Regions from separate parts of the Homo sapiens genome. Here all the other regions are linked to region 1. The links come from fine-mapping of genetic effects on gene expression. A gene starts in region 1. Each other region holds a variant in brackets. All regions are shown on one strand. Distances are from middle to middle. Region 1 holds the start of CORO2A (coronin 2A). Region 2 overlaps TBC1D2 (TBC1 domain family member 2). Region 3 holds the start of TRIM14 (tripartite motif containing 14).

Region 1 (8,176 bases):
CCTCCCCTCCTGTGGAGAGGGGTGGGTGGTACTTTGTATTTGACCCAGCATAATGTAACCTCTGGTTCCTACCTGGCTGCACCTGAGAATCACCTGAGTAGGCCAGGCGCCGTGGCTCACGCTGGTAATCCCAGGACTTTGGGAGGCCAAGGCGGGTGGATCACTTGAGGCCAGGAGTTCAAGACCAGCCTGGCCAACATGGTGAAACCCTGTCTCTACTAAACATACAAAAAATTAGCCAGGCATGGTGGTGGGCACCTGTAATCCCAGCTACTCGGGAGGCTGAGGCAGGAGAATCACTTGAACCTGGGAGGTGGCGGTTGCGTGGAGCTGAGGTCGTGCCATTGCATTCCAGCTTGGGCAACAAGAGCGAAACTCTGTCACAAAAAAAAAAAAAAAAAAAAGAATCACCTGAGTAGTTTTTTAAAAATGTTGGTGCTAGGGTCCTATGCCTGGAGCCTGTGGTGGAGCCCAGGCATTCTGATACATGGAAGGGTTGGGGACACAGGACACGGGACACAGGGCTAACTGCCTCCTCAGGCCCTGACAGGGAGCTGGGATTGAGAACTGCTTGTCCTGCAGCATCAACTCACCCAGGCCAAGCTCAGGTTACCAACGAGTAGACAGGGCTCAGAGACATTAGCTAACCTATCCAAAGTGACACAGCCACTGGTTGAGCCATGCTCAAGCCTAGAGCCCTTACTGCAAAGCCAGGGAGGACTCCCCCAGCTTAACCCACCTGTGGAACCTAGAACACCTTCCCCAAGGACCTAGGGAAGGGGCATGCCTGGCCTGTGGCCTCCTGGGGATACCCTCAGAAGATAGTTCTAAGCCAAGGAAAACTAGAGGAAGAATTTCCTCATGGTTGCCTCACGCTGGGATTGTAGCACTATTTCTCCCCTTCATCAGAGACAACAAGAGAAGCATGATACCCACATGGCAAGGAGGCTGAGCAGGGACTGGTGGGCCCACCCCAGAGCATCTGTGCCTGCTGTTGCTGCCCCTGGGGCGCCTGCTTGCCCTTCCCTGCTCTTTCTGGAGGGTGTTTGGGGCCCACTCCTGGTGTCAGGTTCCTGGCCCGCACCACAGCTGTTGCCCCCTTCCCCTGGGGCTGCTGCCTTCCAGGGCTGGAGGATCCGATCCCTCTCAGCCCCACCTTCCCACCCTAGGGGACAGGACCTCATGCTCAAAGCATGCCTTCCCCAGGCCTTAGGCCCCCAGCAAGCTGTGGTCCGACCTGCTCTAAAGGAGAGGAAAAGGGAATTACCCAGGGAACCTCCCTGGGGCAACATCCCTAAGAATAAAGGGACTGGGTCAAAGGAGGTGGAAGGCCCCCCTCCCAACAACCCCTAACATAAGAGGTGCTCACTCACTTCCAGAGATTGCCCGTGTTCAAGGCTACTATCCTCCAAACACAGACCCCTCCCCAACCCCCAGGCACTGTCTCCTCATTCTTTCTCAACCCCCTCCCCCATGGACATGGGGCCATATCGTACAGAAAGTTCCATGTGGGGCAGATAGATGGAGAACTTGCCCCCCACCCCCACCACACACACACATATGTTCTGGTCCTGCACAAGATGTTTACCCACATATGGAAGATTAACAAAGCCAGCCATGTGGGTGCACTGGGAAGGAAGAGGGAGGTTTCCTGGCCCATCCCAATCCACACTAAGGCCTAATAGAAGATGCCAGGAGATGGGCCCAACTTTGGAACCAGATCTGCTATGTGGTTTTCTAGCTAGGGGATCCTGCGTAGGTCATGCCCACTGTGGCCTCAGTTTCCCCATGTGTGCAATCCTGCATCTGGACCAGGATTAGAGGGAGGGAAGGGGCAAGAGAGGAGGACACTCCCCAGCCACAGCAACCCCAGGAAGGGTCCCAGGTTCATTGCAGAGGTCTCCCTCTGGCTTATGGGTCCATATGCCCACAGCCCCCAGAGATGTCTCTGTCAAACCAGCTGTTCCCCAAACAGTCCCAGCCACCAACCACCATGGCACAGGGTAGGAAGATGCAGGTGCAAGCCTTGGAGGGCACATCCATAGGACATCTAGGAAGGCTAGGCCTGGAAGGATGAGTGGGTTTAGACAAGGGAGATGATGATTTGGGAAGAGAACTGCAGACAGAGCAAAGGCTCAGAGATGTCAGAGTGCAAGGCGAGTGGCATTGGCAGAGGTAGAAAGCCACACCAGAGATGCTGGCCCAAGCCCTAAGTGAATTAAGACATTCAAGGCCAGGCGTGGTGGCACGCACCTGTAATCCCAGCACTTTGGGAGGCCAAGGCAGGCAGATTGCTTGAGCCCAGGAGTTGGAGACCAGCCTGAGCAACGTGGCGAAACCCTATCTCTACAAAAAATATAAAAATTGGCTGGGCATGGTGGCACGCACCTGTAGTTCTAGCCATTCGGGAGGCTGAGGTGGGAGGATTGCTTGAGCTTGTGTGGTGGAGGCTGCAGCAAGCTAGGATTGTGCCACTGCACTCCAGCCTGGGCGACAGAACAAAACCATGCAAAAACAACAACAACAAAGTTATTCAGATGCCTTAGCCTGGGAAAGATCATGGTGCCCACCGTCCAGCTGTAATTCAAGTAAAAACCAAACCATGATTATAAAGAATTCCCACAATGTTCTGATTTCATCCATATGTTTGTTTGTTTGTTTGTTTGTTTGAGACAGAGTCCCACTCTGTAGCCCAGGCTGGAGTGCAGTGATGTGATCTCGGCTCACTGCCACCTCCACCTCCTAGGTTCAAGTGATTATCCTGCCTCAGCTTCCCAAGTAGCTGGAACTATAGGCACATGCCACCACGCCCGGCTAATTTTTGTATTTTTAGTAGAGACAGGTTTTCACCATGTTGGCCAGGCTGGTCTTGAACTCTTGAGCTCAAGCAATCCACCTGCCTTGGCCTCCCAAAGTGCTGGGATTACAAGCATGAGCCACTGCGCCCAGCCATCCATATGCTTGATACCCAACTCTTGCACGCTAACACCAGAAGCATGCGTTCAGTCTACCTGCTGGGCAATCCAGCTCCAGAAGGTCTGAATCAGAGCTGTAGGATGGGGTTTTCAGGACCATAGTGCACACTGGGCTTTGGGTGGTAGGCAGGGAGCCCGTCCAGCTCTGGGCAGGGGGGTGGTACAGTGGACTATGGAAGCTGAGTCACATTCTAAGGAGAGAATCAAGAGCTCCCTAAGTACCTTGCCACTCCAAGCCTCAGTTTTCTTATCTGTAAAATGGAGGTAATAATAGTGGCTAAATAAAGCCACTATTATTAGAAGCTTAGAAGAAACGATACAGATATGTAAAGTAGTAACAGTGTACTCTGTTATCCACTCCACAACTATATATTGAGTGGTTACTATGTGCCACGGAGCAGTTCAAGGCCCTCAAGATAACCCGTCTCTACTGAACAAAACCAAGAGCTCTTCACAGACGTGGTGTGGAGTGGAGTGGCTGTTAGCTTAGTAGCCGTGGGAGCCATACTGCCTGGGGTTGCATGACTAGCCGGGTGATCTTAACCTAGGTACTTAATATCTCTGTGCCTCAGCTCTTTTGTGTTAAATAGGTGAGTAATGGTATCAACCTCATAGGCCTGTGTGACAGTGAAGCGAGGTAATGCACAGAAGGCGCTTAGAGGAGTGCGTGGCTCAGTAGTGTTAGGTGGGGGTGGTACCCAAAGGTAGGGCCTCCCCATTGTCTAGTGTCCTCAGGGCTCTCCAGCCAGCGAGGCTGGCAGCAGCGCCCCCGGCTGGTCCCGAGAGAAGGAAGGGCGTCCTCCTCGGTTCCCAGCGGCGCTCCCGGCTCCTCTCCTCCCTGCGGACGGGGAAGCCTCGGTAACCGCTGTAACTGCTCGGGGAAAGGAGCGCTTCCCTGGCCGGGCTCGGCGCGCGCACTGTACCCGGCCGGGATCGTCACATCCAGGGCTCAAACAGCCTTAAGAGGCCGACGCGGTTACTGTCTCCATTTCACAACGGGGGAAACTGAGGCTCCGGGAGGTCAGGTTCCTCATCCCACACCACGCAGCGAGGGCACGGCGCGACGTGGGGCCCGCGGCTCTGCCTGTCCCCAGCCTCCGCCTGGTGGCCGGCAGCCCGCCCCAATCACTGCGGCGTGTGCGCGCCTGTTCCCAGCACGTGTGCGCGCCCCGAGACCCGCCCCGGGGAGCCAGGAGCGCGGTCGGGGTCGTGGGGGCGGAAAAGGGTGGCCAGGGCGGACCCGCGGGGCGGGCAAAAGGGCGGACCTTGGGCCAGGCCCCCGCCCCGCCCTCCGGCCCCGCCCGCCGGGCTGCAGGGGGAGGCGGCGGCGGCTCTGGGCGCCGGGAGTCGGCGGGCGGCGAGGAGCGCGGAGCCGGAGCTGGACGCCGCCGCCGCCACCGCCACCTGCGCGGCAGTCATCAAGGTAGGGCGGCCCTGCGCCGCCGGCCGTGCCTTCCCGGTCTGCGCGATGGGGGCGTCGGGCGGGACGTGCGCGCTGCGGCTGCAGCTCCCGGAGAGGGAGGGATGCGGGGCTCGGAGCGCGGGGGACCTGGCTTTCAGCCCCTTTGCGTGACCTTGCACAAAGCACTGCTCCTCTCCAGGCCTCAGTTTCCCCGTCAGGATAGCTTGCTCATTGGTGGCCCCCTTCTCGCGGGGTTGTTGGGAGGGGCCGCCTCGAGGTCCGGGCTCCCGACGGCTCGCTGCCCTCATGAGCACTGTCTGCACCGCCCACCCCTCCTGCCCGCGGTGAGGGAAGCTCACTCTGGGCGCGGCCAGCCGGTCCCGACAGGCCCCTGCTGTGGCCCGGGTGCTCCATGGGACTCTTGTCGGGACCCTCCCCCTCTTGGCTGCGTTACCTGCTGGGCCTCAGCTTCCTGGTACAGGAAACGGTGGGGTGGGGGGCATCCCCGGGTCCCCGCCAAGCCGGCCTGGGCGTGCATGTGGGGCATCAGCCGGCCCGCCAAGAGGGTTTACTCGTCTGGGGCTGGAGGAGCCCTAGGTTGGAGGTGGCTGGACTCCTGGCGGCACGACTGCCTGGACCAGCCCCACGTAGGCACCTCGATTTAGAGAGTGGTATAGGATAGCTCCTTCCCCTTCCCCACCCGGGCCAGGTGCTGGTGCCTAGCTCTGTGTCCCAGAGCTAGTGTGTGATAAGGTGTGACACACACTAGCTGGTGTGACAAGGGGTGACTGGCGGCCACGCCTGGACCTCAGAGGGGTGACAGTGCCAAGGTGCTGTGTCCGCGTGGCATTAAGGGATGGGGCAGAGCACAGGTCTGAGGGACTGTGGTCCCAGGCTCCCTAGGTAAAGAAGACCTATGGCATCTGGCCCAGCCCCTCTGTAAGATCCCCTCTGGAAGGTCTTGCTGCCCCCTTGCACACTCCTTGTGATAGGAATCTCACTAGTTGTAAACCAAGCTGGAATCTGCTACCCAGTCACTGCCTCTCCTGCTGGTCCTGCTCTGGACACACAAACAACCTCTGACCCTTCCTCCCTCACCCTGGGGCAGTGGTCAGGTCCCTTAAATATGCTCATCTCCAGACCCAGCAGCCCCAGGCCCAGCAGTTTCTCCCATCAGATCCCAGGGAGCCAAGGCAAGAAGAGGGAGCCGAGGTGTCTGCCCTGGAGCAGGCTGTGGGGCCTCCGCTTTCCTGGGGCTTGTTCAGAACCCACCTGTGCATCAGGACTGGAATGTGTCTCCCCAGCTTCCTGCCCCTCCTGGGGACCGTCTGAGAGGTCCGGAGTGAGGAGAGCCGGAGCCCCTCTGCAGGCCTTTCCTGCCCCATGGGGCCTCTTCTCCACCTCCCTGATGCCTGCCCTGTTTGAGGGAGCAGTTTCTAGGAATCACTTCTCAGCCTCCTGGTCTTTCTTGTCCCCTTCATGACCTGCCCTGCACCCAGGGATTTTCTTAACAGCCAAAAGAGGGCAGGAGGCCCCTGGACAGGTAGTGAGCTCTTTGTCATCACAGGTATTCAAGCAGAACCTGGGGGTGAGCTACCTTGGACTGAAAGTCTATGGAATTCTAGGGCTGAAGTAGTGCCTATGACCTTGCCCTGCGGCCATGGTGGAGCTGCACAGGACTGGGAGCTGGACCACAAATGAGTGTTATTATCCCCTCGTAAAAGCAGGCAAAGTATATGTGCTGGCCCATGAGCCCAGCTCCGACGCACAGGCTTAAGTGCTACCTGGGTCTCCTGTCATCTCGACACATGTATAATCTGGGCCCTGTTTTCCTGCTTGCCTAATTCAAGCCTTTTTGGCCTGATTTAGGAGCATGGCAGATTCTGGTTATTAAAAAGTCATGCTATGACTTTAATTGCTAATACTTTTTAAATGCACCATGGAATCATGGAATGTCTGAGCTGAAAGGAGCCTTCAGACGTCGTCTCATTCAACCCCCTCATTTTACAGATAGGCATCCCCTGTCGCCAGAGGGGATGTGACTGGGCAAAGGTCACACAGCAAACCAGCAACCGAGCCCAGGGATCCTGATTCCAAGATTGGAGTGCCTTTTTTTCTCCAAAAAAACACATAACATATAATAAATGAAAGCAGTCTGTATTTATTCCTGTAAAATTAGCAAAAATAAAAATAAAAAGATGAAACTCTGTGCTGGCAAGGCTATAGGGATTCGCCTGTGGCATTTAATTTTGCAGAGCAACCTGGCAGCCTGTTATCATGAAAATGATCATATTTGCCCTTTGCCCTTAGCCGGCTACTTTGGGGACTTTATCCTAAGGAAGTAACTAGGGAGAGAGACATATGTAGTGCTGTTATTTGTAAGAAGTTGTCTTCTGGCCAGGCACAGTGGCTCATGCCTGTAATCCTAGCACTTTAGGAGGCCAAGGTGGGCGGATCACCTGAGGTCTAGAGTTTGAGACCAGCCTGGGCAACATGATGAAATCCTGTCTGTACTAAAAATATAAAAATTAGCTGGGTGTGGTGGCACATGCCTGTAATCCCAGCTACTCGGGAGGCTGAGGCAGGAGAATCACTTGAACCCGGGAGGCAGAGGTGGCAGTGAGCCGAGATTGTGCCACTGCACTCCAGCCTGGGCGACAGAGCGAGACTCCATCTCAAAAAAAAAAAAAAATAAAGGAGTTGCCGTCTAGTGAAGAAGTGTTCAGTTTTATCTGAGGCTTAATAAACATTTCATTTGACAAATACAGCTTAAAAAATAGTGGCACTGAAGCTTACATTACCGGAGTCTGGCCAGCATAGAAACAGTTTAATCCAGAAGAAAGACCATGAGACTAAAGTCAGCAGACATAGATTCCAGATTGAAGTCTTCCTCTTCCCTACTGTGTGACCTTGGGCCGATCCGTTCCCCTCTCTGGACCTCACTTTCTCCATCTGTGAAATGGGGGTAGACTCAGCAGTTGCTGAATTTGTTTGAGCTCTGACAGCCAACCTCTTAGAGTGAACAAATCTCAGTAGCAAAGCCGAGATTGGAAGGAGATTCATTAAATGAATCCCCTTAGAGGCAGGTAGCTAGCTCCCCACCGAGGGGTTTCAGCCTTAAACCTTTGCTATTTCAAAATGGCCAGAAGCTGGATCGTTTTAGAAGTTGGTGTGTTTTTATCTTCTCTGCCAAATCTCAGGAGGTCCAGAAAATAATTCAGCAGAATCTTCTTGTGTTTTAAGTCTATAATCCATGCCTTGCCTCCTTCAGAACAGATTGGACGTGCTTTGCAATCACACCTGGTCTAAAGGGCCAGGAGTAGGTGACTTTGCTTCTGTGGTCAAACTGTGCCTCCTGGGGGTCTGCAGGCTGCTATGGGAAACTTACTAGGTTAAACCACATGAAACGGCCAGTATGTGACTTTTTTTGACTTACAAGAAATGGCAATTTCATTTGGTTCAGCCTAAATGGAAAAAGATATACAGGTATTTAAAGAGCGGTGTGCTCCTTACTATAATTGAGAGATTGGCAGGGTGTGGTGGGGACAAGGAAGGTGTGATTATGAGCTTGCAGAAGTCAAGGAGGAGGGACATGGGAGCCTCACTTTGAAGAATCACTAACAGTAATAATAATAGCTAACATTCATTGAGGGTTTACCGCCTGCCTAATTCTGTCCTAAGTGCTTTATGTTCATTCATTCCATTAGTCATTCAGCCAGTATTTATTAAGCACCTACATTGTACTAGTTTTTTTGTTTGTTTCTTTTGTTTTGTTTTTGTTGTTGTTTTTTGTTGTTGT
Region 2 (8,176 bases), 31 kb before region 1:
TTTGGTTTTTGTTTTTAGTATTTTTATTAGAGACTAGGTTTCACCATGTTGGCAAGGCTGGTTTCGAACTCCTGACCTCAAGTGATCTGCCCACCTCAGCCTCCCAAAGTGCTGGGATTACAGGCGTGAGCCACCGTGCCTGGCCAGGAGTTACATTTAGTGAAGCAACTGGTGATTAGACATTAGAGTTCTCAAAGGAGGGGGCTCATTTATTCATACGTTCTTAACTCATGTGTTTATTCACCAAATTTTTATTAAGGGCCTGTTATGTGCATGCAGTGTTCCAGGTGCTGGGAAAGAACAATGAGCAAAAGACACAGGCTCTGCCCTTACAGCTTGCATTTCATGGCAGAGACAGACATTAAACAAAGCAACACCCAAATGTGTAGTTATAACACGTGAGGTCCCCTCTGCTGCTGCTTAGCAGCCCAGCTGTCTTTTCCTCCTGTCATCATGGTGCTCCAGTTCTGAGGCTGCTGGACGCTCCTGAGAGCTGAGAGGGCATGAAACAGAGCCATAGCAGCTACTTGATCCCTGGACTAGTAGAGCTTAAATCCGAAACCCAAACCTGGAAAGAAAAAGAAATCCTGAATATACGGGCAGCCTCTCTTGACACAGCCTTTCTTTCTAAGACATTACAAATTGTCAGATGAAGTAGAAAGGCCCCAGGAAACCTAGATTTCATGAAAGTTTGCCCCTGATTGCTCTGCATCTCTGGAGGACTCATCATTCTTCAATAAATAAAGGCAAGATTCTTGGAGATTAATAAGGGTTGACCAGGCTATTGACAACTCCCATATATTCAGAGGGAAATTGTCAGGAGGAAGTTGTTGATGCATTGAAGAATCTGGATTTTTTTTCTACCAGGTAACCTTCCACCAAACCTCGACTTTGTGTCCTGGGACAGAGGGTCAAAAGGAGAATGAGTTGTGATTTATTTAGTTTATCCAATTATTGTGCAATAGGAGTGGATTTGTTTACTCTCCAACCCATTCCACAAATGAACTTCAGTCTTCAGGGTGATTCAAAGAACCAGCCTTTAAATAAGACAGCACAGGCTCAAATTCTGGCCCTAAGCAAGTTTCTTAACCTATCTAAGCCTCAGTTTCCTCTTCTGTAAATGGAGTTGCAGCCGTGTTTACTGGAGAGACCTGTGCCCAGATTCATAAAGCCCAGTACCTGGCACCCAGCAGCTGCCCAACAGATGCAGGCTCTGGTTGTTCTGGCGATTACTGCAGCCCTCCTTACCCTCCATGTCAATCTCTTCCTGCCCTACAAGCAGTGAGGTGCCCTGCTGAGGGGCTCAGAGACGAGGCGGGAAGTGAGAGCCCATCAGTGCCTTCAGGAAATGTGCCGTGGGGCCATAGCAGTGATCAGGGAGCTTAGGTCTTCATTCCACATTAGGAAGGGAGGAATGGCAGCCCCGTAACTCTAGGGTTTCACCTGTAGCCCAGATACTGAAACCAAAGAGGTGAGACAGAAAAAGCCAGCACAACTTCTGGGTGCCCAGTGGTGCCCCCAGGCACTCAGAATGCCGCTAGGAGAGCCGCTGTCCATCTGAGACCCTCATTAGAGTCCCATTCATCAGCTGGGAAGATGGGCACCTGGAATCCCAGGAGCTACCCCTGCGAGGTACCTTCCTGTGTTTCTTTAGTGGGAAGGCACCTCCTGTCTACCTCAAACTTCAGGAGGACATGGGAATTTGGGGTCTTATCCTAGCTGATCTGGCCATTGCCAGTGGCTTTCGTGACTCTTTAGGAATTTCTATCTCAAACACTGCGAGATGCTCTTGAGAGCACATTGCAGACAAATCCCTGCCCTTGGGCACCTCACCATCTAGTGGGGAAGAGAAGATGTGAGCATGGGAACTGCTGGTATGAAGCGCGGCCCCAGGACTGTGCTGAGCCTTCCCATGTGTTATCTCTGTCCTTACAATAGTTTTCATCCCCTTACTCTGAAAGGGAAACTGAGGTTCTCAGAGTGTCTGCATGCTCAGGGTCTCCCAGGGGCTAAGCCAGCATTTGAGGAGCTCAGAGGAGTTGGGTGACTTGCCCATGCGCAGGCAGCTGGAAAAGCCAGGATTGGGGCCCTAACCTCCTTCTCCAAGTCTAGAGGCTGGGCTGCCTCCTCTCTTCCATAGTCTCATGGTGAGGCCCACTATGAGACACAAGCACCAAAACTGCTCTTGAGAAAAAATGAATGCACTCCCTGTGTACCCCCTGGTGTCATATTAAACCACAGGTTGACTTCAATACCCATTAAGCCATTATCTGTCCCCATACCTGCAGCACTGGCCCCACAAGAGGTTTGGGCTCTAGGAGATAGCACCAGATGGCTGATTGGCCGGGGACTGACCCTTGGAGTTGACAGAACTCCACCCAGCCTGAAGGCCGTCTGCTCTGGCAGATGGAAGGCTGTTGTCTGTGGTGATGTTGGCCATCTGTTGGCGGCTGGGAATGATGAACCCCTCTGGGACCCTGCCTGCGGCCCTCTGGGGCCACCTTAGTTCAATCAGGATTACTGGGTAAAGGAACGTAATTTTTTAGGAAACTCAGTGGGGCAACGTATAGCCTCTTACTTTCCTAGAACTCCAGCCAAAAACTTCAGAGGACATGAAAGAGGGCTGGGAGGTACCTTGGCCATGTCAGCTTGGGGAGGGACACTTGGCACTTTCTCTTTCATGCTAGAGGCAGTTCTGAGCAGAAGAGGAAGCTTTAGCCCCATTCATGAGAAAGCTGAGGTTCAATGAAGAGGCCACCTGAGCTACCCTCCTTAGAGTCACCTCGTTAGATACACCCCCCACGGATCCAGAATGGGAACCGAGGCCTGTGCAACTCCAAAGCCCATGCCCCTTCATCTGACCCCTGTAGGGCCCACCACTGATGAAAGTAGCAATGCTCTAAAAAGATAAAGGATTATTTTTTAAAGATGATTTATTGGCTTTTAAAAATTTAAATAAAGTGACAACTTATGACCACGTATCAAAATCTGAGATGAACCAAACAACTCGATTGAGAAATATTAAAAGTACCACTTGGGCCGGGCATGGTGGCTCACACCTATAACCCCAACACTTTGGGAGGCCAAGGTGGGAGGATCTCTTGAGCCCAAGAGTTCAAGACCACCCCGAACAACATAGGGAGACCCTGTCTCTACAGAAAATAAAATAATTAGCTGGGCAATGTGGTGCATGCCTGTAGTCCCAGCTACAAGGGAGACTGAGGCAAGAGAATCTCTTGAGCCCAGGAGGTTGAGGCTGCGGTGGGCCGTGATTGCGCCACTGCACTCCAGCCTGGGCAACAGAGTGAGACCCTGTCTCAAAAAAAAAAAAAAAAAAAAGAAAAGAAAAAAAAACACTTCAAAAAGCTTAATTTCATCAACCCCTCTATTTTTCTTTTCTTTTCTTTTCTTTTTTTTTTTTTTGAGATGGAGTCTCGCTCTGTCGCCCAGGCTAGAGTGCAGTGGTGCGATCTCAGCTCACTGCCAGCTCCGCCTCCCGGGTTCACACCATTCTGCCTCAGCCTCCTGAGTAGCTGGGACTACAGGCACCCGCCACCACGCCTGGCTAATTTTTTTGTATTTTTAGTAGAGACGGGGTTTCACCATGTTAGCCAGGATGGTCTCGATCTCCTGACCTCGTGATCCGACCGCCTTGGCCTCCCAAAGTGCTGGGATTACAGGCGTGAGCCACCACGCCCGGCCCAACCTATTTTTAAGAATTGGTCCTAAGACATTGCTTATAATCCAGACTTTAGGTTTCTTGAATTCATGACATTCTCACTCCTCATCTTACAAGTCCTACTGAGGCTCCCTCCCTCTGCCCTGGTTCCGTTCTTTTAAGCCTATTTTATTCTGGTACAAGAATTCTGGGGGTGGGAGGAGAGCCTCCTGGGCTGGTGTCTCAGTCTTAGATTCTGGGAGCCAAATGCGGGAAGGAGACAGCTAGATGTAATGAAATAAGCTTCAGAGTCAACTAACTCCCCAAATTGAGGGAAAGACACCCACTGGTCCTGCTCCTAGGGCAAGTCTGAACAATGATGTCTGTTGGTTATTTCCCTGGGCAGTCATCCAAGGTAACCTCCAAATCTCAGCTGAAGCAGAAAATGGCCTAGGCCCCCAGTTTTCCTGGAACCACAGGAATGTTAATCTCTCTCCACTGAGCCCTGAGAAGCTGACTTCTTCATTCTGGACGTTCCAAACATTCCCTTTTGGTTTGCAATCACTGTGCTGTCCTCACCCCAACTTCCTGCCACACCCCAGGGCTCCCACAGCTCCATGGTAGCTCTTTCCTTCCTCCAGGTCTTTACTGGGGCTGTAGCTTGGCCACATCTGGAGGGCCATCCCCACCCTCATCTCCCACCTGCTGCTCGACCATCTCTGGCCCTTCTCATTCTTCACAGTTTCTTTTAAATGCTCTGGACTGGTATTCCCCACAACCTCCACCCCAGACAGAAGTCATTGCCTTTCCCACAAACACCCTTGTTCCCCTGACTTGCAGTAGATCATTCCACTGTGGTGGGTCATGTTCATTCCCACCAGCCTTTGCAGTCCTTGGAGGTGGGAACTCTCACCACTCCCTCTCTGGGCCA[C/T]GGCACCTGGCTCAGGGCCTGGCCTGGCACCGAGTGGTGCTTGGTAAAGGTTGGATGGATGGATGGGCATGTGGAAGGAAAAGAGAGAACCAGAGAAAGGATGGTCACTAGTCCTAAGGTTTCAGAAGATGCAGGCTAATGTGGTCTTGTCATTAGCTTCTCCAAAAAAGTCATGGTTTTTGGCAGTTTTCCTCCAATATAGAATTGTTCTTAGCAAATAAGGCTATCCAGCCAATCCACTCATTTTAATACTTTGGTGTGGTATAGTTGACATGTCTCTAGGAAACCATGTTTTTCCAAATGAGAAGCACAGAGCAGGGCAGTGTTGCCTGAAAGTCATACCTACCTGGTATTAGTTCCACGTGGACCTGGCTGCTGATGTCCTGATCCTGGCCCAGAACAAATTCACATCCCTGCTTTGGGACAGATAGGCCTGAGTCCAGGCGTGGCCCTCCCTGGGGAAATTACAGGCTTAAAGGCACAGGGAGCTGAGCAGACCTTGAGTTCCTGTGTGAATTAGTTGCCCCTGCTGAGGAATAAATCAAGCTCTATTGTTTCTGAACTTTCTAGAGTTCCTTCCACCAGCTTTGCAGGCATCGGCTGGTGGGCTGAAGGTAACTAGGCACAAATGGCTTGAATGAGGTCCTCTGTGTGTGGCTTTACATGGGGATTGCCAGTGTATTTCCTCTTTAACCCTGACTCAACTTGATTGGTAGTGACTGGCTGCTATATTGAGAATGATTCTGAGGCCTCAACTAGGGTAGGCTGTGCAGGAAGAAGTATGGGAGATTAATTAGTGATGTCTGCCACAGGGATGAGAGGGAAGAGTAATGCCACATAGCTGCCACCCCTGGTTTTCTTAGTTACTGAGCACAGGCTTTGGAATCTAGCCAATTGAGATTGAATTCCATTCTACTCTCTGCTGGGCCTCAGTTTGTTCATCCCTGAAATGGATGTGTATATGTCAGGGTATGGGTTCAGCTGCTGTGACAAAAACATCTCCACTGGGTGTGGTGACTCATACCTGTAATCCCAGCACTTTGGAAGGCCAAGGTGGGCAGATCATTTGAGTCCAGGAGTTTGAGACCAGCCCGGCAACATGGCAAAACCCCTTCTCTACAAAAAAATACAAATATTAGCCTGGTGTGTTGGCATGTTCCTGTGGTCCCAGCTACTTGAGAGGCTAAGGTGGGAGGATCAGCTGAGCCCAGGAGATTGAGGCTACAGTGAGCCATGTCTGTGCCACTGCACTCCAGGCTGGGTAACAGAGGGAGACGCTATCTCAAAAAAAAAAAGTTTCAAAGCACTGTGGCCCAAAACGAGTGAGAGGTTTCTCATTCACATTAAAGAACCCAGAGGTAGGTGAGCAACTCTGAGCTGGGGGGCAGCCCTTTCTCAACATGTACCTTCTGCTGTGGGTCTGAGGCGGCCACTCTAGTTCCTGCCACTTCCCAGCCAGAAGCAAAGAGAACTGGACCAGAGGAGCGTGTATCTAGTGGTTTTAAAGGTAGGACCCAGAAGCTGCCCATCTCACTTTTCATTTCCCATTTAGGCAGAATAGTTACTTGGCTACACCTCACCATGGCTTGGCTGGGAGATGCAGTTTTAAGCTGGGGAACCATGTGCCCAGCTAACAGTCACTTGAACAGAGAAGGAGAAAGTGAGTGTCAGGATGAGATGCCGCAGGGATGCTGCTGGGCACCTCTCACGGTTGTTAGGAGAACTACTGATAACATATACCCCACTGTGGCGCCCAGCAGGCCCTCCCTGAGCTCACAAGATTCTTCCCTCTCCCTGCCCAGGAGCTAGTGAAGATCCTGCACAAGGCACTGGAGGCCGCCCAGCAGGAGAAGCGGGCGTCCAGCGCATACCTGGCGGCGGCTGAGGACAAGGACCGGCTGGAGCTGGTGCGGCACAAAGTGCGGCAGATCGCGGAGCTGGGCCGGCGGGTGGAGGCCCTGGAGCAGGAGCGGGAGAGCCTGGCGCACACAGCGAGCCTGCGGGAGCAGCAGGTGCAGGAGCTACAGCAGCACGTGCAGCTGCTTATGGACAAGAACCACGCCAAGCAGCAGGTCATCTGCAAGCTCTCTGAGAAGGTCACCCAGGACTTCACGCACCCCCCTGACCAGTCTCCTTTGCGCCCCGACGCTGCCAACAGGGACTTCCTGAGCCAGCAGGGGAAGATAGAGCACCTGAAGGTAGGGGCCTCCCCTCAGGGCCTGCCAGTCCTGCCGGTCCTCTGTCCCAGCCCTCAGGGAAGGTGCGCTCTCCACCCCTAAGGGTTTGCTAGGTGGAGTGGGGATACCCCTTCATCCTAGAATATTCACATTAGAAACACATGTTGATGGGAATATTGCTCTACGCTTCTTCACTTTCTTTACCACAAGGCCCAGTGCAGTTTGCCTGGGCCTTGATTGACCCATTAACCAGTAGCCCTGGTATCCTGGGCTACTGAAAAGTGAAGGTGCCTCTAGATTATCAAATGAGAGATGAAAGCCTGACTAGCTAAGTGTGGGGCCTGGCCTGGTCAACCTCCCTTAGTGCCATCCCAGTGCACCCGAGAGCCCTAAGGGGCCAGCACGACCCTCCCCCCACAGTCCTGCGCCTGCACACTGTACGGATGACCTGCAGCTGCCAATAGTCACTGCTCCCATCTGTAGAATTTATAGGGTGTTTCCTGTGTGCCAGGCACTGCCCTCGGTGGGTGCATCGCCACATTTAGTCCTCGCGCCAGCCCTGTGAGGTGAGGCAGCCGCTGGTGTGCTCCCCCTTTACAGATGTGGAATGCTGAGGCTGAGAAAGGTTAAGGAGCCTGCCCAGGGTCATGTGCTGAAGAAGTGGAGGAGCTGGAGCTGGGCTGGAGCTCATGTCTGCGGTCTGGTCTGTCTGCTCAGCTGCCGCTTCTAGCTGCTGCCACCATCCCTGCTCCTCCTTTCCTCCCCTTCCTTCCCCTTCTCTGTCCCTATCTTTCCCTAGGCTTCCCCACCCCACAGGGACCAGTGATGTCACAGGAGGTAGGAACTTTATGTGAAGTGTGTTGCCTGCCGTGACCCGCAGCCTCCTCTCTAAAGGGTTGTGACAGGAACTGTCCCACTGGGAGGCCTGTGGCTGTGGAGTGCACTCATAGCCTCCACTGTCCGTAAAGGGAGCCATACAACCAGAGTTCGTCCTGCCCCAAACCCTGCCACTCACAACCACATATGTACAGTCAGATGCCATATAACAGGCTGCATATGTGATGGTCCCATAAGATTACAATGAAGCAGAAAAATCCCTGTCACATAGTGACATCATAGCCGTCATAACATCATAGCACAACATGCTACCTTTTCTATGTTTACATGTGTTTAGATACACAAATGCCATTATGTGACAGCCACCTATGGTATTCAGTACCGTAACAGGTGCACAGGTCTGCAGCCTCGGAGCAATAGGCTACACCATCTAGCTGGGTGCGTAGTAGGCTAAATCACCTAGGTTTGTCTGCGTCCAGTCTACAATGTTTGCACAACAGTGAAATCACCTAATGACGCATTTCTCAGAGTGTATCCTCATAATTAAGCCACACGAGACTGTACATATAGACT
Region 3 (8,176 bases), 71 kb after region 1:
TAGTGGGTATCAAAGTCTTTCCAGTTCTGACATTATAGGACTTTCTGTGCTTTCAAAGTCCACATTTGTTTAGTGCCTACTGTGTGGCAGATCCTGGGGTAGGCACTTTGATACAGCACGTGATTGAATTCTCTCAACAGCCCTGGAAGTCAGTCTGTAGTGGCTAAGAACACAGAGGCTGGCATCTCACAGATGGATTCTGATCCTGGCTCTGCTGAGTACTAATTTAGGGTCTTAGACCCAGAGACTGAATGTCTCTAAGCTTCCGTTTCCACGGTGGTACGGTGGGGACACTAGCACTGCCACCCTTATAGGGGTGTCACAACGTTCCAGTGGGATAACGAGGCCCTTAGGGCATCACTCAATATCTAACACCCATTCTGCACAGAGGGCAGTTTTCTGACCCCATTTTCCAGAGGAAGGAATGGAAGCTCAGAGTGGGTAAGTAACTTGCCCAAGGTCACACAGTTCAGTGGTGGCGAAAACACCAATCCCCAGACTTCAGAGCCAGGCATCCTTTCCTCTATTTCATGGAGGATCTATGGAAGCAAAATACATCTGAAACATTCCAGTCTTCTTGAATTTCATTTATTGGGTGAAGTAAACAAGGTGTTTGTAAAAGATCTATGCAGTGACAGCCCCATCAGGCCTCAGCCATGTTAATGTGACCGCCTCCACCTTTCTGAGTCAAAGAGGGATAGTGGTTTAGCTTTCAGCTGGTGTCCTGACACCATGGTGATCCTGCCTTCCGATCTTTCTTCCCCAGTTGCTGCAGATGTTCTACCGGCAACAGGAGGAGATCCGAAGGCTCCGGGAGCTGTTGACCCAGCGAGAGGTCCAGGCCAAACAGTTGGAACTGGAGATCAAAAACTTGCGGATGGGCTCAGAGCAGCTCTGAGCAGAGACCTCTGCCCTCCTCACCCTCAGGGACACCACTCGGCTCCATGGGGAGGTTTAGAACCAAACCACAAGTCCCCTCAAGGACAACCACTATTTCTATATTTTTTACCAGAAAACAAAACTCTCCATCGCTGAAAGAGATTCCAGTGGGACATGGTGCCGTTTTTCTGTTTGCCTTCTTGCAACAACAGTTTCTGAATTGACTTTGTTTTCAGATGATGCCTTCTGTTGAATTCTGTTATTAAGGGCCCATGATGAGCTGTAACTTCTCAAGAGGAAAGAACACAGTAGAAAACTAGAGCTGGAAGGATCTAGGTTGACCTGTCTGTGATTTTCAAACTGTGGTCCAGAGAATAGGGGAAGACTGGGCCAGACGCAGTGGCTCATGCCTGTAATCCCAGCACTCTGGGAGGCTGAGGTGGGCGGATTGCTTGAGGTCGGGAGTTTGAAACCAGTCTCACCAGGCGCAGTGGCTCACGCCTGTAATTCCAGCATGTTGGGAGGCCGAGGCTGGTGGATCACGAGGTCAGCAGTTCGAGACCAGCCTGACCAACATGGTGAAACCCCATCTCTACTAAAAATACAAAAAAATTAGCTGGGCGTGGTGGCAGGCGCCTGTAATTCCAGCGACTTGGGAGGCTGAGGCAGGAGAATTGCTTGAAACCGGAAGGCGGGGGTTGCAGTGAGCTGAGATTGTGCCACTGCACTCTAACCTGGGCAATAAGAGCAAAAGTCTGTCTCAAAAAAAAAAAAAAAAGAAAGAAACCAGCCTGGCCAACATGGTGAAACCCCGTCTCTACTAAAAATACAAAAATTAGGCAGGGCGTGGTGGTTCACGCCTATAATCCCAGAACTTTGGGAGGCCAAGCTGGGCGGATCTTCTGAGGTCAGGAGTTCAAGACCAGCCTGGCCAACATGGTGAAACCCCGTCTCCACTAAAAATAAAAAATTAACCAGGCATGGTGGTGCATGCCTGTAATCCCAGCTATTTGGGAGGCTGAGGCAGGAGAATCGCTTGAGCCTGGGAGGCGGAGGTTGCAGTGAACCAAGATCATGCCACTTCACTCCAGCCTGGGTGACAGAGTGAGACTCCGTCTCAAAAAAAAAAAGTTGGCCAGCCGTGGTGGTGAGCGTCTGTAGTCCCTGCTATTCGGGAGGCTGAGATAGGAGAATTGCTTGAACCTGGGAGGTGGAGGTTGCTATGAGCCACGATTGCGGACTGCACTGCAGCCTGGGTGACAGAGCGAGACTCCATCTCCAAAAAAAAAAAAAAAAAGAGAGAGAGAATAGGGGAAGACTAAGCAGGAAGGCTGTGTCTCCCTTCCCCACACTGTATTCCAACCAGACAGCTCCCTTCTATTTTATATGTTGGGCTAGTATGAAAAACAATTCTGCTAGGAAAAAAAAATTTTTTTAGAAGTTTGAAAGCTAGTGATTTGACCCAAGTTCCTCATTTTACAGCTGGGGAAACTAAGGCCTAGAGAGAGGCAAGTGATATTTGTTTCATGGCAGGGCTGGGCTGAGATCCTGCTTTTCTGGGTCTGTCTTTTTGCTCTTTTGGGTCTGATGCAGTTCTCAGCCCAAAGAGTAGAAATCTGTTGCTTCTGGCCTCAGCTGTGCCCCAGCTTACTCAGTGACCTCTTGCAAGTCCTGCCCTCTCTGGTCTCAGTTTCTTCATCTGAACCAGGGGTACCCTGGAACAAGCTGCTCTCTGCAGGATCTGCCACCTGAAACCTTGACCTAAGAGAAAACTACCTGTGGGGTGATCTGGGTTTGCTACAGAAACTAACGGACACTGGCAAGGGGTCAGAGGCATTCAACCCAATTCTACAACACAGGCAGGTGGTCAAAACCAACCTTTCCAACCAGAATCAGCCTGATATGGATAGATGCTGTCCCTTATGGAGGGACGCAGACTTCAGAACTGTGCCCATGACTGCTGACTGCCACCACCAAGGCCCTCAGGTACACAGCCTGCCTCCTGCAGGATGATGTGGGCAGATTTCAGCCCTAGTTAACAGAAGAGTCCCCCAGGAGGTAGGGGGCCCCCATCACTGGAGACATGCCAGCAGAGCCTCTGGCCACCTAACCAGGAGGTCTTCTGAAATGACTATACGAGGTAAAGAAGTAGTACCAGATGGTCCCAAAGTTCCCTTTTAGCCTGAAAGCTTTTCTTTGTCCCTCCTTAGTGAATCTGTGTTCCGAGCCCTACTCTAAAGTTCAGTGGTCAATACAATAGTCCACCAAGAGACTGGGAATGATTAGAAGTGAAATTGGTCCCTCCTTACCAAGGAGGGGCAGATGATCTCCATTGCACAGGGCGATTAGATTCTGGAGCTGAGGTGGGGACTGCAGGAGGCCACCTAGTCTGGTAGGTTTCAACCCAAGCTGTGTACATTAGAATTCCCTTGGGAGCGTGCAGGAAATACAGATGCCCATGCCACATTCCAGACCAACTGAAGCTGAATCTCCAGAGTAGGGCCTGTATGGTCATATAAGCTCCACAGGTGATCTGCAGTACAGTGAAGATGGAAGACTGCATGTGTACCTATTTGCAATAAAGATGAAGAGGACAGCAAGCTCCAGACAGGAGCTGGGACTCAACCCAGATCTCTTAAGTCCTGCCTGGTGGCTCCTTAAAAGTCCAGAAGTGTTGCCCCAAGCCCTCCCTCAACATCTCTGGGAACCGCAGCTGCAGCACGATGGGGGTTCAGTGCCCCTGTTTGCCCCTTACCCAGCTGTGGTTTATTCTGCTTGTATGTCTGCACAGGCCGGATGCTCGTGTTCCTTGTCTTATTCTCCATTTACTCAGTCACTGGGGCTCACTCCCGTCTGATGCACTAGCCAAGATTGCCTTAGTGTGCTCCAGAAAAGAAGGCCAAATCCCAGGCATTGTCAGGGCAGCAGAGCTCTACAGGATAGGCTTACCTTTCCCACCTGTGTGGCTAGCACTTCACAGTTTACAAATTCCTCCCACCTCCACTCAGTGACACATGCTGTTCTAACACAGGTCAGGCAGGCATTACAGTCCCCATGTTCAGAATCAAAGACCTAGCCTCAGAGAAGTGAAGAAACATCATGCCAAGGTCATTGACTGCCAAGCGGTAGAGGTGGGGTTGCATCCAGAGAGCTTCCCGGTATGCCTCTGCACAATGCCATTCCTTGGCCAGCTCCCTCCACCCCAAGGGACCCAGACTGCACACTTAACAAACAGGACACAGGTGTCTTTGAACAAACTTTTTTGTATTATTATTTTTACATCTAGAATAAATTATTTAAATTATTTCACAGCAAGGGAGAGGGATAGGTAATTTTTATCAGATATTTTTTTAAACCATCTGTTTTTTAAATTACATTTTTGTTTATGTTCTTGAGCTGATGTAGTGGAACTTGCCTAGCACATTCAGGTCCCAGCCAGTTGGCAGAGCATGCTCTCATCTCCTTATTCCATACCCTGGGCGTCCCCTTTCTGTTGACTCAGGAACTTTCTGAGAATGAGGACAGCACTAGGAGATGAGCTTTGGCAGGTATCCACCTTAACGCTACAATAATTGTGCTTCCTGAAACAAAACTTGAGATTGTATCATAGAAGGAAACAGGAAGTCAGAAATCAAATCTATGCTTTTAATTGAAACCGTGCCTGAAACAGTTTGAATGATTGTTTTAATGTTGTTTCTGAAATTCCTTGTACCTTTGTGAAAAATAATGATAATAAATAAAAGTGAAAATAAATAGATGTGGAATATGCAATGGAAATAATGTAACAAAATAATAAACATCTGGCCATTTTACTACAAGGAGCTTTCCTTTTCTTGATTTGTTCCACAAATACCAATTAACTATCTACTCTTGGAGTCAGACACCAAGCTGGAAAACAGGCAGAACAGACAGTCTTTGCCCTCTCCAGTTTTCAGTCATGGCTGCGGGAATGGGGAGGGCCAGGA[T/A]AGGGAAAGCATAGGCTGTTCTGGAAGGAGAAGGAGGGAAGGCTTCCTGGAGGAAAAGATAGTAAGGTAGAAACCTGCAGAGTAAGTTGGAATACTCAGGGCAAAGGGCATTTGGGAAGAAGAATGTTCCAAGCAGGGTAAACTGCACGTCCCCCAGTCTTGAAAAAGCACAGGGTGGAGCATAGGCAGGGCGGAGACCAAGGATCTTAAGAAAGAGCTGAGGGCTTTATAAGTGGAAGTCTAGACTTGAGCCTGGGGGGGCAACTGGAATTTGGGGTGGTGGTGTGTGTGTGAAAGTTGTCAGTACCAAAACAGAGTCACTTACATCAAAACCAAACTAAATGGTGCTCCTGTAGTCCCAGCTACTCCAGAGATGAGGTGGGAAGATCACTTGAGCCCAGGAGTTAGAGGCTGCAGTGAGCTATGATCGCACTATTGCACTCCAGCCTGGGCAACAGAGCGAGATCCTGTCTCAAACAAACTAAATGGTGCTGGGAGGCCATGAAGTGGGGGGCCCTCATCAACGATTTGCCTGGTAACAGGAACTATTATTGCAAAAGATTCCACCAAACTGCAACCTTGCACAAAGAACCACAACCTTGCACAAAAGCCATGATATGAGGACATCTGCCCAGCAACTGCCTGTTCAACTTTTGGACTGAAGCCACCTGTATTAATTCTTGTAACCAAGTATTATTATTTTAAAACGATCTGGCCGGGCGCGGTGGATCACGCCTGTAATCCCAGCACTTTGGGAGGCCGAGGCGGGCAGATCACGGGGTCAGGAGATCGAGACCATCCTGGCTAAAACAGTGAAACCCCTTTTCTACTAAAAATACAAAAAATTAGCCGGGCGTGGTGGCGGGCGCCTGTAGTTCCAGCTACTCGGGAGGCTGAAGCAGGAGAATGGCGTGAACCCGGGAGGCGGAGCTTGCAGTGAGCAGAGATGGCGCCACTGCACTCCAGCCTGGGCGACAGACCGAGACTCCGTCTCCAAAAAAAAAAAAAAAAAAAAAAAACAAAAACAAACAAACAAACAAAAAAAACAGTATATGCAATCCTCCTCGTTTTGCCTTTAAAAGCCTCTGCTTTCCTTTGCCTCCCTGAGTACTCCGCGTCCCCACCCCTTGGGTGCCATGGCACATTTATTCCCGAATTGCAATCCTTCTGCTCAGTCCGAAATAAACTCAATTGGAGAATCTCTGTGTCCTTATTTGAGGTTGATGAAGGTATCTTACAGTTGTGGGAATGATTATCTTTCCGGGGAAAAGGGCAAGAGAGGATCAAGGGAAAGTGAGAGGAGCACCCCCGGAAGGTCACAGCCAACTTTGGTCCCATCATCAGGGCTGCAGTTTTCTGGGCGTTACTGGAACAGCGTCATTAAGCAGGAAGCCCACCCTCTCCTAGCTGGCTCATTAGGAGCTTCCCATTTCTGGTGGGACCACCTCCCGGCCTGGGCGGGCAGAGGGAGCACCCTGCTGGTCGGAGGATGCTCCGAGGCCCGACGCTGCTCCCGGCGGGCTGTCATCCTCCTAGGGGTCGGCCGGCCGGCCTGGAGCCGCCCCGCCCACGGCCGAGGTTTCGGTTTCCCTTGGGAGCCCCGCCCTGTGTCCCGGGGAGCCGGAGGAGGTGGAGATGAATGGCGGGCGCGGCGACCGGGAGCCGGACCCCTGGGAGGTCGGAGCTTGTCGAGGGATGCGGCTGGCGCTGCCCGGAGCATGGCGACCGCGTGGCTGAGCTCTTCTGTCGCCGCTGCCGCCGCTGCGTGTGCGCGCTTTGCCCGGTGCTGGGCGCGCACCGTGGCCACCCTGTGGGCCTGGCGCTGGAGGCAGCGGTGCACGTGCAGGTGGGGACGATGGGGACGGGGTTCGCCGCGCGGGAGTTGGGGGAGCCAGCCCAGGCATAACGGCCGAGGAGGGGGCGTGCCTGGCCGTGGCCAGTGGCGGGTTACAACCTGGAAACCAAAGGTGCCCCAGAGGGCGTCTAAGCGGTCGACCGAAAGTTCAGAGCGGGAGCCTGAGACCCAAGGAAGGGCAAAGGCGAGCCAAAGCCATCAGTTGAGCTTCAGAAAAGGTGGGTTTAGGAGTGAGAGGTTGGGAGCCCAGGCTGGTACCCAGATGTCCTTGACCGTGTCCACCATGGCCGATCCGCCACACTGCCATTGGGCTGGAAGACAGTCTGCCTTTTAGTTAACAGAGGTACAAACTCTCCCTCTTAATAAACAGCCCTGTGTAGCTCAGAAAGCCACACAGACATCTCAGGTTTACTTAATCTGCAGTCCACAGAAAGGGCCTGTGAACTTTGAGCTGAGGACGGCCTGACTGCCCTGGGAGCAGCCTCAGCTGTCACTACCTACCTCCTCTCCCCTCCCCGGCCACACAGACACTCCCATTCCTGCTCATAGCAGCCCTGGGTGAGCCATTATTATTACAGCCATTTTATAGGCCACAAGAGGAAGGCTCTGGAGGCAGGGGCAGGCCTTGAACCCAGGACTCCATTAGCCAGATGCCCCCAACAGGGCCATTGTCACCGTGGAACCCTTACCCATGCATAATCCTAACAGTGCCCCAGGGGCTCTGGGCTCCTGCTCCAGCTTCCCAGCTGACTTTTTCTGTGGCTTCTCTCAAATCCTTCTCTCTCTCTGGGTTTCATGAAGCCTGGGTGAGGTAGGCCCTCATGTCTGACAGCTGTTGATCCTACCACTTGTCTCCAAGAAGTCTTCTGTGATGAATTCAGCCCCATCGTGAGCCTTTCTCCGGTACTGCATGACTCCAGACCACCACACTGTGACAACCTTGGAACTCCAAGGTGAAAAGGGGATCATGGGGGACAATCCAGTGGAGTCGTGGGCTCAAGACCTGTCCCTGCCACCAGACCCTTCCTTTTTTTAACGTATGAAATGGCTGTAATTATAATAATGGCTCCTTGAAAAACTGTTATTCAGAATTAACAAGGCTGCTTTCCACAGATCTGGCTCAAGAGTCTCACCCATCCATTTGTCCATCCCCCTACCCACTACCTACTGTCAACTTGAAGTAATAAGATTCAGAAAATATGATTAAGTACAGAGTTTATCCAAGCCTAAAGCTTGAGGATGGCCAACTGGGACCATAGATTCAAATTTCTGTGACTATCCACTCTGATTAGCAGCAGTTACATATAAGTTTTTAAGGAAAAAAGAAGAAGCAGTTCCTAAATTGTTTACCAAGAATTTACATTAAAATGACATAAGCAGTCGGGCACAGTGGCTCATGCCTGTAATCCCAGCACTTTGGGAGGCTGAGGCAGGAGGATCACATGAGGCCAAGGGTTTGAGGCCTGGCCAACATGGG

Evidence for each region.
Region 2: its variant is fine-mapped to the expression of CORO2A in fibroblasts (GTEx, PIP above 0.99).
Region 3: its variant is fine-mapped to the expression of CORO2A in whole blood (TOPMed, PIP above 0.99).

What each region holds. Positions count from the first base shown.
Region 1 is chr9:98,188,781-98,196,956 of GRCh38, reverse strand. It overlaps CORO2A (coronin 2A), which reads left to right and starts at 4,320. Exons shown (of 12, transcript NM_052820.4): 1 at 4,320-4,398. RefSeq lists enhancers at 1,060-1,576, 4,813-5,467 and silencers at 3,991-4,540, 4,611-4,660.
Region 2 is chr9:98,219,444-98,227,619 of GRCh38, reverse strand. TBC1D2 (TBC1 domain family member 2) reads left to right here. Exons shown (of 13, transcript NM_001267571.2): 6 at 6,392-6,787. Among named protein-coding and RNA genes, the nearest start is that of MIR6854, 5.7 kb to the left of the region's middle. RefSeq lists an enhancer at 3,751-4,950. The variant C/T (reference allele first, on the strand shown) is at 4,590.
Region 3 is chr9:98,117,496-98,125,671 of GRCh38, reverse strand. TRIM14 (tripartite motif containing 14) reads left to right here and starts at 6,450. Exons shown (of 6, transcript NM_014788.4): 1 at 6,450-6,690. The coding sequence starts at 6,484. It overlaps CORO2A (coronin 2A), which reads left to right. Exons shown (of 12, transcript NM_052820.4): 12 at 767-4,697. The coding sequence ends at 898. RefSeq lists a silencer at 6,517-6,616 and an enhancer at 6,927-6,976. The variant T/A (reference allele first, on the strand shown) is at 4,845.